3 linked regions of the Homo sapiens genome follow. The protein of the gene in region 1 purifies or fractionates together with the protein of each later gene. This does not show direct contact. Each region holds a gene or a part of one and is shown in the gene's direction. Other genes may lie near its edges.

What was found.
Region 2: the proteins of JADE3 (region 1) and KAT6A purify together in Homo sapiens (affinity purification with mass spectrometry, with the first as the bait; one large-scale study listed by BioGRID). This does not show direct contact.
Region 3: the proteins of JADE3 (region 1) and BRD1 purify together in Homo sapiens (affinity purification with mass spectrometry, with the first as the bait; one large-scale study listed by BioGRID). This does not show direct contact.

What each region holds. Positions count from the first base shown.
Region 1 is NC_000023.11:47,051,902-47,055,553, forward strand, and holds part of JADE3 (protein Jade-3), read left to right. Parts: intron 1-2,256; coding exon 2,257-2,727; intron 2,728-3,652. UniProt on the Homo sapiens protein: Scaffold subunit of some HBO1 complexes, which have a histone H4 acetyltransferase activity.
Region 2 is NC_000008.11:41,936,901-41,940,552, reverse strand, and holds part of KAT6A (histone acetyltransferase KAT6A), read left to right. Parts: intron 1-2,984; coding exon 2,985-3,297; intron 3,298-3,652. UniProt on the Homo sapiens protein: Histone acetyltransferase that acetylates lysine residues in histone H3 and histone H4 (in vitro). Component of the MOZ/MORF complex which has a histone H3 acetyltransferase activity. May act as a transcriptional coactivator for RUNX1 and RUNX2.
Region 3 is NC_000022.11:49,817,743-49,821,394, reverse strand, and holds part of BRD1 (bromodomain-containing protein 1), read left to right. Parts: intron 1-408; exon of another isoform or gene 409-561; intron 562-3,011; coding exon of another isoform or gene 3,012-3,173; intron 3,174-3,652. UniProt on the Homo sapiens protein: Scaffold subunit of various histone acetyltransferase (HAT) complexes, such as the MOZ/MORF and HBO1 complexes, that acts as a regulator of hematopoiesis.

The sequences.
Region 1 (3,652 bases):
CCTGGCTAATTGGTGAAACCCCGTCTCTACTAAAATACAAAAATTAGCAGGACTTGGTGGCGCACGCCTATAATCCCAGCTACTCACAAGGCTAAGGTGGGAGGATCACTTGAGCCTGGGAGGCAGAGGTTGCAGCGAGCCAAAATCGCGCCACTGCACTCCAGCCTGGGCAACAGAGTGAGACCCAGTCTCAATCAATCAGTCAGTCTTTGGAAGGAAAGCTGTAACATTGTAACCATAACAAATAGTAATTAAGGCTAACTGAAGCACAGGAGTATAGTAGTCATGGGCCAGGTCCTTCCCCCTTTGCCCCCCCCTATGAATAGTCAGTACATACTGCATAGTAATGCTTAATAAATGTGTTAAATCTATGACTGAATGGCAGAATATTATAAACTTAATTTCAGATTGTCTGTAACCATATTGTTCAATAGAACTTTCCACAGTGGGCCAGGCACAGTGGCTCACACCTGTAATCCCAGCACTTTGGCATGCTGAGGCGGGCGGATCACCTGAGGCCAAGCATTCGAGACCAGGCTGGCCAACATAGTGAAACCCTGTCTCTACCAAAAATACAAAAAAATTAGCCAGGTGTGGTGGCAGGCACGTGTAGTCCCAGCTACTTGGGAGGCTGAGGCAGGAGAATCACTTGAACCCTGGAGGTGGAGGTTGCAATGAGCCGAGATTGTGCCACTGCCCTCCAGCCTCAGCAACAGAGTGAGACTCTGTCTCAAAAAAAAAAAAAAAAAAAAAAAAAACTTTCCACAGTGATGGAAATGTTTTATGTCTGTGCTGTCTAGTGTAGTTAAAATGTGGCTACTGTGACTGAGAAACTAAATTTTTTAATTATACATAATTTTAATTAAATTTAAGGCTAAGCGCAGTGGCTCACACCTGTAATCCCAGCACTTTGGGAGGCTAAGGCAGTCAAATCACTTGAGGTCAGGAGTTTGAGACCAGCCTGACCAACATAGTGAAACCCCATCTCTACTAAAAATACAAAAATTAGCCGGGCATGGTGGCACATGCCTGTAATCCCAGCTACTCGGGAGGCTGAGGCAGGAGAATTGCTTGAACCTGGGAGGCAGAGGTTGCAGTGAGCCGAGATTGCACCACTGCACTCCAGCCTGGGTGACAAAGTGAGACACCGTCTAAAAAAATTTTTTTAAAAAATGAAATAGCCACTCATGGCTACTTGGCCACCAAGTTGGACAGCTCAGTTCTATAACAACAATTTCACGGGGCATGGTGGCTCACACCTGTAATCCCAACGCTTTAGGAGGCTGAGGCTGGTGGATCACTTGAGCCCAGGAGTTCAAGACCAGCCTGAGCAACATAGATTCTCTATTTTTAAATATTTTAAAAAATTCTTTTTGAGATAGGTTCTCACTCTGTTGCCCAGGCTGGAGTACATTGGTGTGATCTCGGCTCACTGCAGCTTGGACCTCCCGGGTTCAGGCAATTCTCATGCCTCAGCCTCCCAAGTAGCTGGGACTACAGACATGCACCACCATGCCCAGAAAGCTTTTGTATTTTTAGTAGAGACAGGGTTTCGCCATGTTGCCCAAGCTGGTCTCGAACTCCTGGCCTCAAGTGATCCACCTGCCTTGGCCTCCCAAAGTGCTGGGATCACAGGCGTAAGCCACTGTGCTCTGGCCTAAAATTTTTATGTTTAAAAAAAAAATTCAAGAAGTTAGGTTACTTAGATATTGGAATTCCTATGACTTTTTTAGAACCAGTGGATGCTCTAGCAATAATACTCACTTTGTGTGTTTTCTTTTGTTTGTTTAGAAACATTTTCTGAGCAACTGCTTCTTCAATAGTTAATGACGATGCAAAATGAAAGACACAGCTTCTGTTTTTAAGATCTATCCCTAAGGACTTGACAATTGTTATAGGTACAGTGTGAAAAGTACCATTTTAAAAGCATTCATAGGGTGATGTGGGAGACACAGAGAAGAGACTACATGACTGTTTACAGGAGCCCAGGAAAGCATCTCAGAAAACTTGATGCTTGAATGCTTGAGCTGAAACCTCAAAAGGAGTGTTTGAATTATTTTTGGCCTCTGTGTTTGCTGTTTTCTGTAAGAACAGGTTTCTTGGGTTACTTGTAAAGCATCTGTTATGGTCAGTTTAGGACTAACTTTCTCCCGGTCTTTCTTTTGCTTCCTACAAGCTATCAATTTAGGTCCAGAAACATAGGTCTCTCCCTTTTCCTCCAACTCTGCTACCTTGACACCTATTTTCTTCCTACAGTGCTCTATAAAAAGCTGCATCACTGCCTTCCACGTCACCTGTGCCTTTGAGCACGGCCTAGAGATGAAGACCATCCTAGATGAGGGAGACGAAGTGAAGTTCAAGTCATATTGCCTCAAGCATAGCCAAAACAGGCAGAAACTTGGAGAAGCTGAGTACCCCCACCACAGGGCTAAAGAGCAGAGCCAGGCCAAAAGTGAGAAAACCAGCCTGCGGGCACAGAAGCTTCGGGAGCTGGAGGAGGAGTTCTATTCCTTGGTACGAGTGGAAGATGTGGCCGCAGAGCTGGGTATGCCCACGCTAGCTGTGGACTTTATCTATAACTACTGGAAACTGAAGCGGAAAAGTAACTTCAATAAGCCATTATTTCCTCCAAAGGAGGATGAAGAAAATGGGCTGGTGCAGCCAAAAGAGGAAAGCATTCACACTCGAATGAGAATGTTTATGCATCTACGCCAGGACCTGGAGAGGGTAAGGTGACCAGCTGTGACTAGTATATAGGCCTCGGTCTGTGTAGAAATGGAGGTCCCACTTCTGGTTTAATAATGGTCAGTCAGCTCATAATAGTGTGGGCTTCTGTGTCCTTGCTTATCTTCTGATCTCTTTATGGCCCCAGACATTGGGCTCTGTGTAAATTCTGACAGGCACATCCAGGGGATTTGGGAGGCCTCGGGTATATGCTCTATGAACTTTACATTTGAAATAAACTCTCATTTGGTTTACTTTTTATTCACTGTTGAGCCTAAATTGGCCCATCCATATTTTACTGACATATTTATGAGACTTTAGGCTGAAGAAAGAGTGAATTTTGTTCAGGAAAACACCAAATTAGAGTTTCACAAACTTGGCACTGTTGACATTTTGGACTGGATAGTTGTTTGTTGTTAGGGGGCTGTCCTTTGTTGTAGGGGCAATTTAAGATGTTTACCAGCATCCCTGGCCTCTACCCACTAGATGCCAGTAGCACCCGCACACACACCCCCAGCGTGACAACCAAAAATGTCTGCAAATTACCAAATTTGCTCTCCAGTTGAGAGCCACTCCACATGATAATTCAATATAACTCATGGTATATTTATCAGGTATCTACTAAATGAGATACTGCAGGGCTTCAAAGGTAAGTTAAGCCCTGTGTTTATCCTAGAGAATTTTCTAATTAAATGTAAATCTATAAATGGCTTGTGTTTTTTTTTCTCTGCTACCAGAATTTGAAAGAGAACTAATAGATTTGGCTCACTTTTAAAAATTTAAGACACTCACATATAGCACCTACTATTACTATTATTGCCAACACTGTCCTAAGCATTTTATAAATATTAATTCATTTAATTCTAACATGCCCATGAAAAACTATTATTATCATCATCACTATTTACAGATGAACAAACTGGGGCAA
Region 2 (3,652 bases), on another chromosome or scaffold:
TGTTCAAATCATGACTTTTAGGGGCTTAAAGCCCTAAAATATCTTTAAAAGATATTTTTAAAGTATGTACAGATTAGAAGTGTTTATATTAGAAAAGGAGGCCAAAATATTACATAATTAATTGGAAAGTGAACATAGTGCTGCCCTATATTTTGGGGTACTCAGAGTACAGTAGCTCATCTTGGGTGCTATTGTTTTCTCTCTACTCTCCCCACTTCTCACACATCCCTCCAGTGGTTTAACGTGGTCTCTCTTGCTTTAAAAATATTTTCTAAACTATATTCCATCATAATGATAGCCAATTAGTTATTAAATAATGTACAATGATGATAATGAATTCTGTTAAGCCGTTTACCAGAAACATCCCAGGCTATGGAGTGGATTTTAAGCATTGCCAGGAGGCAGCCAGACTGAAGCGAGGCTGCTCCCTGGAAGAGCCACTCAGCCAGCTTCCAGCCAAAGCAGCACAATCGTTCCTTTCCTTACAGGGTCTTAAAAAGCAAGACAGGATCTTTTGTTTTGTTTTGTTTTGTTTTAAGAATAATATCTTCAGAGCAGTTTTACATTTACAGAATTAATGCAAAGAAAGTACAGAGAGTTCTCGCATACCCCAGCCAGTTTCCTCTATTATTAATCCCTTGCGTTGGTGTGGTACATCTATCACAGTTACTGAACCAGTGTAGATACATCAGTAACTAGAGTTCATACTTTATTCAGATTTCCATAGTTTTCCCTAACGTCCTTTTTCTGTTCCAGGATCCCACCCAGCATATCGCATTACATTTAGTAGTCATGTGTCTTTAGGTTCCTCTTGGCTGTGGTAGTTTCTCAGAATTTCCTTAGTTTCGATGGCCTTCATAGTTTTGAGAATGACTGGTCAGGTATTTTGTAGATGATCCCTCATGATATTAGAATGGGGTAATATATTCTTGAGAGGAAGACCATAGAGGTAAAGTGCCATTCTCATCACATAATTAAAGGGTACCTGTTGGCATATATCTATCAGTATGTATAGGGAAGCTGGGCATAGTGGTCACTCTTGTAATCCTAGCTACTTGGGAGGCTGAGGCGGGAGGATCACTTGAGCTGGAGGCTGTAGTGCACAATGATTGTACCTGTAAATAGCCACTGTAGTCCAACCTGCGTGACATAGCAAGACTCCGTCTGTAAAAATAAAAAGAAGCAAGTATCAAATATAAGGGTATTATCAATTTGATTTTTCCCTATTGAAGTTAACTTTGATGACCTGGCTTAAGATATTGTTTGTCAGGTTTCTACTTTTCTTTTCCCTTTACTGGAAGGAAGTCACTGTGCATAGCCACACTTAAGATTTCTACCCCCTCAGAGTGGAGGCTCAGCATAAATTATTTGAATTTCTGCTTGGGAGATTTGTCCTTTCTCCCTCATCTGTTTATTTATCCAAGCATTTATTTATATCATTATTGGCCCAGATATTTACGTGATACTTCACTTTATAATCCAATACTACTGCTTTTTAAAATTTGTTGCTCAGATTGTTCCAGTTTTGACCATTAGAAGCTCCTTCTTTTAGTTTCCCTCTTGGGCTGCTGCTGCTTTTTTTTTTTTTTTTTTTTTTTCCTTCCCCAGATGGGGTCTTACTCTGTCACCTAGGCTGGAGTGCAGCGGCATGATCTCAGCTCACTGCAACCTCCACCTCCTGGGATGCAAGCAACGCTCCCACCTCAGCCTCTTGAATAACTTGGACTACAGGCATGTTCCATCACGCCTGGCTAATTTTTTGTACTTTTGATAGAGACAGGGTTTCGCTATGTTGCTCAGGCTGGTCTTGAACTCCTGAGCTTGGGCGGTCCACCTGCCTTGGCCTCCAAGGTGCTGGGATTACAGGTGTGAGCCACCGCGCCTGGCCTCCTGTGTTTAACATATATACTGTTGTTGTCATTGTGGGGTCTTTTTGTTTGTTTTTAAGCATTTCCTTTCTGGCACTACAAGATGCTTCAAGTTCATCTTGTATATTTCATGCCCTTGTCCTAGAATCAGCCTTTTCTCCAAGGACCAGGGCCATTTTTAATCTAATTTGAAAATTACATTCTCGATTGGGACTATTAAGTTTGAAGTAGAGAAAAATTGAACATTGACTAACTGCTGTTCATTGCATGATCATGAAGAATAGATCTTTGTCATCCTAGCACTTGTATTGCCAATTTATGAAGTAAAACAAATCATGTTAAAAAAAGAAAAAGAACAGGCAGTAAGCTCACATGCAAAGTAATTTTGAAGTTAATGAATAAATGCTTTGACTGGATGTGTGAACTTAAGCAAGTCCTATACCCTCTCTGACATCTATAGAATGAAGGGATTGGATTAGATAATCTCTGGGGCATCATCTCTTATTTTGTGATATTAGTTGTATAATTTTAGCTATTTGGTCAGTCCAGTGCAAAGTTGTGCTCAGTGTGCCCAAATTTCAGTAACAGATTTATTTTACTTTTGAAATATTTCACTAACACTGAGTAAATACATTTCAGCCCCATATTTCTACATTCCACAGCTTTTTATGAGTAGTTCATGAAAATGGCATACAACTTTACTGATAGTTCTGCAAACCTTCACAGTAGTGCTATAAGACAAAGTGTTTTTATTTCTCTTTTGCTCTTAAGTTGGAAAAGTTAAGGGATTAGCCTCTGGGTCAGTTCAGTATTAAAACAGGGCAACTCTCTAGGGTGCTAAATTTAACTGAACTATTAAGAGAATTATAATGTCTGCTATTTGGAGATGGCTGCCTATTCTTTTACAAAGTTGTGTTCAATTGCCTAATACCTTTGTATTTATAATAAGTGTATTATCTTACTATAGTATTTTGAAATAATATTCAAAATATTTTTTGGCAAACAACATCCTCATTTTATATGTGCTAATTCTATTTGGTTTTAAAACTGTTTTCGTATTATTAATAGAAAAGATAGTGTTCATAACTGTAAATACTTGCTTTCTCTATTAAACAGAAACCATTTCTCCACCGAAGGAGGAGAGTCCGAAAGCGCAAACACCACAATAGCAGTGTAGTCACAGAAACTATTTCTGAGACCACTGAAGTGTTAGATGAACCTTTTGAAGATTCTGACTCCGAGAGGCCAATGCCAAGATTAGAACCCACGTTTGAGATCGATGAAGAAGAGGAGGAAGAGGATGAAAATGAACTTTTCCCTAGAGAATACTTCCGTCGTTTGTCTTCGCAGGATGTACTCAGGTGTCAGTCCTCTTCTAAGAGGAAGTCTAAAGATGAAGAAGAAGATGAAGAGTCAGATGATGCTGATGGTATGTTTTACAGAACTCACTTACTGTGGTTTATTGTCTTCAGATATATAGCAGTAGCAGTGACAGACCCTTCAGTAAAAAGGCTGAAAAATGAACACAACCCACTAAGCAAGAAAAGGAACGTTTGGCAATCTCTAAAAAGTTGTATCAAGTATATCCATCTTGATTTTTAAATGTGTTTTCCCTTCAACTCAGAACCTCTATTAATTTGCCTCTGCAGAAAATATCTTACTATTAGGCAACTGTTCTTTTTTGCCCAATCCTTTCTAAGCCTTTATCAGAATCTTTAGTTAATGGGAGAGTTGGACTTAGCATCAGGAAGATGTAATAACCCTTCACTAGAATGTGCATTCTC
Region 3 (3,652 bases), on another chromosome or scaffold:
ATTTCTACCTATGAGTCAAAAAGTCTAGGGTTTGTATTAAGAGCTTCTGTATAAGAGGTCTAAAAATTTCAGCTTTACTGAAATTGAAGCAAAATAAACAAAATGTGATCTAACAAAATGAAGAGCCAAAAGTCTGAAGTGCTCCCTTCCCTGGCCAGTACCAGATGATGACCTGCTCTGGGAGAGGCCGGGCCTGGCCGGGCCGCACGCTCTCTGTTCTTTGGCTCCTGATGTTGGGTAGGCAGGACTGAAGGAGGCAGTGTTTGCATGCAGGACATGGGGGCTGAAGTGGCCAGGGCTGATTGAGAAGAAAACTCGACCTAAATATTTGAAAGCATGTATTGGAGCTAAACCGCGTACTGTGTGGTTCTGTTCTTTTCCTAACTTGGGAATAAACTATTATTTCAGCTTCGAGTAGAGAGAGAGAAACAAACCTGGACGAGTGTTCCTGGCCGCGGTCTCTGCAGTCTGGGTTTCCCAGTCTCCAGGAGATGCTGGTGCTTCAGGCCACCTTGCCACCAGTGGAGGAGCTCCCAGTGCGCCTGGCCTGTTGGCACCATGGTGCTGGACCCACCTCTGGGGTGGTTGTGAGGGGCAGGCTCTCAATACAGTACTGACTGCTGCCTGAAACCGGGTTTACTGCCTTGCTGTGGTCTGAGAGGCAGCTGATCTGGCAGCCCTGTTCTTAGGCCCTGGGCACTACCCCTGGGTGCATGTAGGAGGCCTCAGCTGTGCATTTGAATTCTGTGTAGATGAGGGTGAAGCTTCTTATTTTTTATTTTATGTTTAGAGACAGGGTCTTGTTCTGTTGCCCACGTTGGAGTGCAGTGGCGTGATCATGGCTTACAGTAGCCTCAAACTCTTGGACTCAAGCGATCTTCCCGCCTCAGCCTCCTCCCAGCCTCAGCTGGGAATACAGGCACGAGCCACTGTGCCTGGCCCATGGTGAAGCTTCTTGATGTGCAGCCGTGGGCGGGGATGCTGAGTCTAGTTGGTTATGGTGTGCACTAACCAATGGCTCCGGTGTAGGACCCACCTAGAGCATCTGAGGATGTTATGCTTCAGGCCAGCCAGTCACGCTGGAAGGGAGATGAGACCCCATCTGAGCAGCGTTTTAGAGATTTTAGAGAAAGAGGATCTTCCTTATTCCCTGTGGACAGAACAGAATCTGCCTTCAGGGACGGACTGCTTTTATAATTCTAGTGGTTTAAAAAATTAAAATTTCAAGTAAAAAAGATAGTTCTTTTTTTTCCCCCCTTTTTTTTGAGGTGGAGTCTTGCTTTGTTGCCCAGGCTGCAGTGCAGTGCGGTGATCTTGGCTCACTGCAACCTCCACCTCCTGGGTTCAAGTGATTCTCCTGCCTCAGCCTCCTGAGTAGCTAGGATTACAGGCACCTGCCACCACACCCGGCCGATTTTTGTATTTTTAGTAGAGACGGGGTTTCACCATGTTGGCCAGGCTGGTCTTGAACTGCTGACCTCAGGTGATCCACCCGCCTCGAACTCCCAAAGTGCTGGGATTACAGGCGTGAGCCACTGCGCCAGGCTAAAAGAGATAGTTTTAAGGTTATAATCTGTTTTTTTGTAAGTTTGATATACTATGATTAAATAATAACAGCGGTAAATAAACACTTTGAAAAACAGGCAGGGCTGGGTGTGTGGCTCACACCTGTAATGCCAGCACTTTGGGAGGCCGAGGTGGGTAGATCACGAGGTCAGGAGTTCGAGACCAGCCTGGCTAACATGGTGAAAACCCATCTGTACTAAAAATATAAAAATTAGCCAGGCGTGGTGGTGCGCGCCTGTAATCCCAGCTATTCAGGAGGCTGAGGCAGGAGAATCTCCTGAACAGAGTCCTGCTCTTCTGCTCAGACGGGTGCAGTGGCATGGTTATGGCTCACTACAGCCTCGACCTCCTGGGCTCAAGCGACTCCCCCACCTCAGCCTCTTGAGTAGCTGGGACCACAGGCATGTGCCACCATGCCCTGCTAATGTTTTTATTTTTTGGTGAGATGGGGTCAAGCAATCTGCCTGCCTCGGCCTCCCAAAGTGCTGAGATTACAGGCGTGAGCCACCATGCCTGGCCTTACATTGATTTATTGTTATTTTTTCTTTTCTGTTCTTCTTTTTTTTCCTGAGATGAAGCCTCGCTCTGTTGCCCAGGCTGGAGTGCAATGGCATAATCTCGGCTCACTGCAGCCTCCACCTCCCAGGTTCAAGCGATCCTCGTTCCTCAGCCTCCCGAGTAGCTGGGACTACAGGTGTGTGCCACGGTGTCTGGCTAATTTTTGTATTTTTTTTGTAGAGATGGGGTTTCACCATGTTGTCCAGGATGGTCTCAAACTCGTGACTTCAGGTGATCTGCCTGCCTTGGCCTCCCAGAGTGCTGAGATTACAGGCGTGAACCACCGCACCCAGCCCTATTTTTTCTTTTCACTTCCTCTCTCCAGCATACATCAGTTTTTATTAACGGATTGAGTTGCACCTGTATAGAATGACATTTTTTTTTTGAGACGGAGTCTTGCTCTGTCACCTAGGCTGGAGCGCAGTGGCACGATCTCGGCTCACTACAAGCTCCACCTCCCGGGTTCACGCCATTCTCCTGCCTCAGCCTCCTGAGTAGCTGGGACCACAGGCGCCCACCACCACACCTGCTAATTTTTTGTATTTTTAGTAGAGACGGGGTTTCACCATGTTAGCCAGGATGGTCTTGATTTCCTGACCTCGTGATCCATCTGCCTCTGCCTCCCAAAGTGCTAGGATTAGAGGCGTGAGCCACCGAGCCCGGCCAGGAGGACATTTTGTCTTTAGTCTTAAAGGAAAAGGGAAAGTCTTTTCCATTTGCACCAGTTTGAAATTAGGGCTCCCTTAACATGGATTACTGCAGGACTCATTCACATGAGAGTTCATACATGGGGTGAAAAGACAAACAGGGTTTCCTGATAACTCTTTTTGGTTATTGCATGAAATGAGGGATAAATACACGCATAATCTGTTTAACAAAACTCCTAGGTTCATCAGAATGCAAAGTAGAAAGTGTCTTAAAAGAGACTGTGATCAGCAGGCAGACGGCCTGTGTCGGTTTGGTTCCTTTGACTGCTTCAGATCTTCTAGGAGGAGCTCCTCTACTACGAGAGCCTGGACTTCAGCCTCACGGACAAGAACCTCAGATAGGCAAGGCTTTGTGATGGGTGCTCCTCCTACCTTCATTCGAATGAGGTTTTCCTCCCGCCTTCACCCTGATAGGGTGCTCCTCCCGCCTTCACTGGTGTCATTTTATTTTGAGTTTAAAAGGATGAACTGGTCTTGGTCAGCCTTAGGAAGGGAAGCATCACTCAGGTGAAAATACGTGGCGAACTTTAAATACCTAGATATTCTCCTCATGCATTTAAATTAGAGTGACTTGAGCTGTTAGAAAAGTTGACTGGGTGCGGTGGCTCAGGCTAGTAATCCTAACACTGGAAGGCTGAGGTGGGTGGATTGCTTGAGCCCAGGAGGTCGAGGCTGCAGTGAGTTGTGATCGCACCTTTGTATTCCAGCCTGGGTGACAGAGTGAGACCCTGTCTCTAAGGGGTTTTGCATGGTTATCCAGAGCAGTCTCTTGAATTTTGGTTGTCTTTGACGCAGCTGCATCTGGAGATCCTCTATGTGAG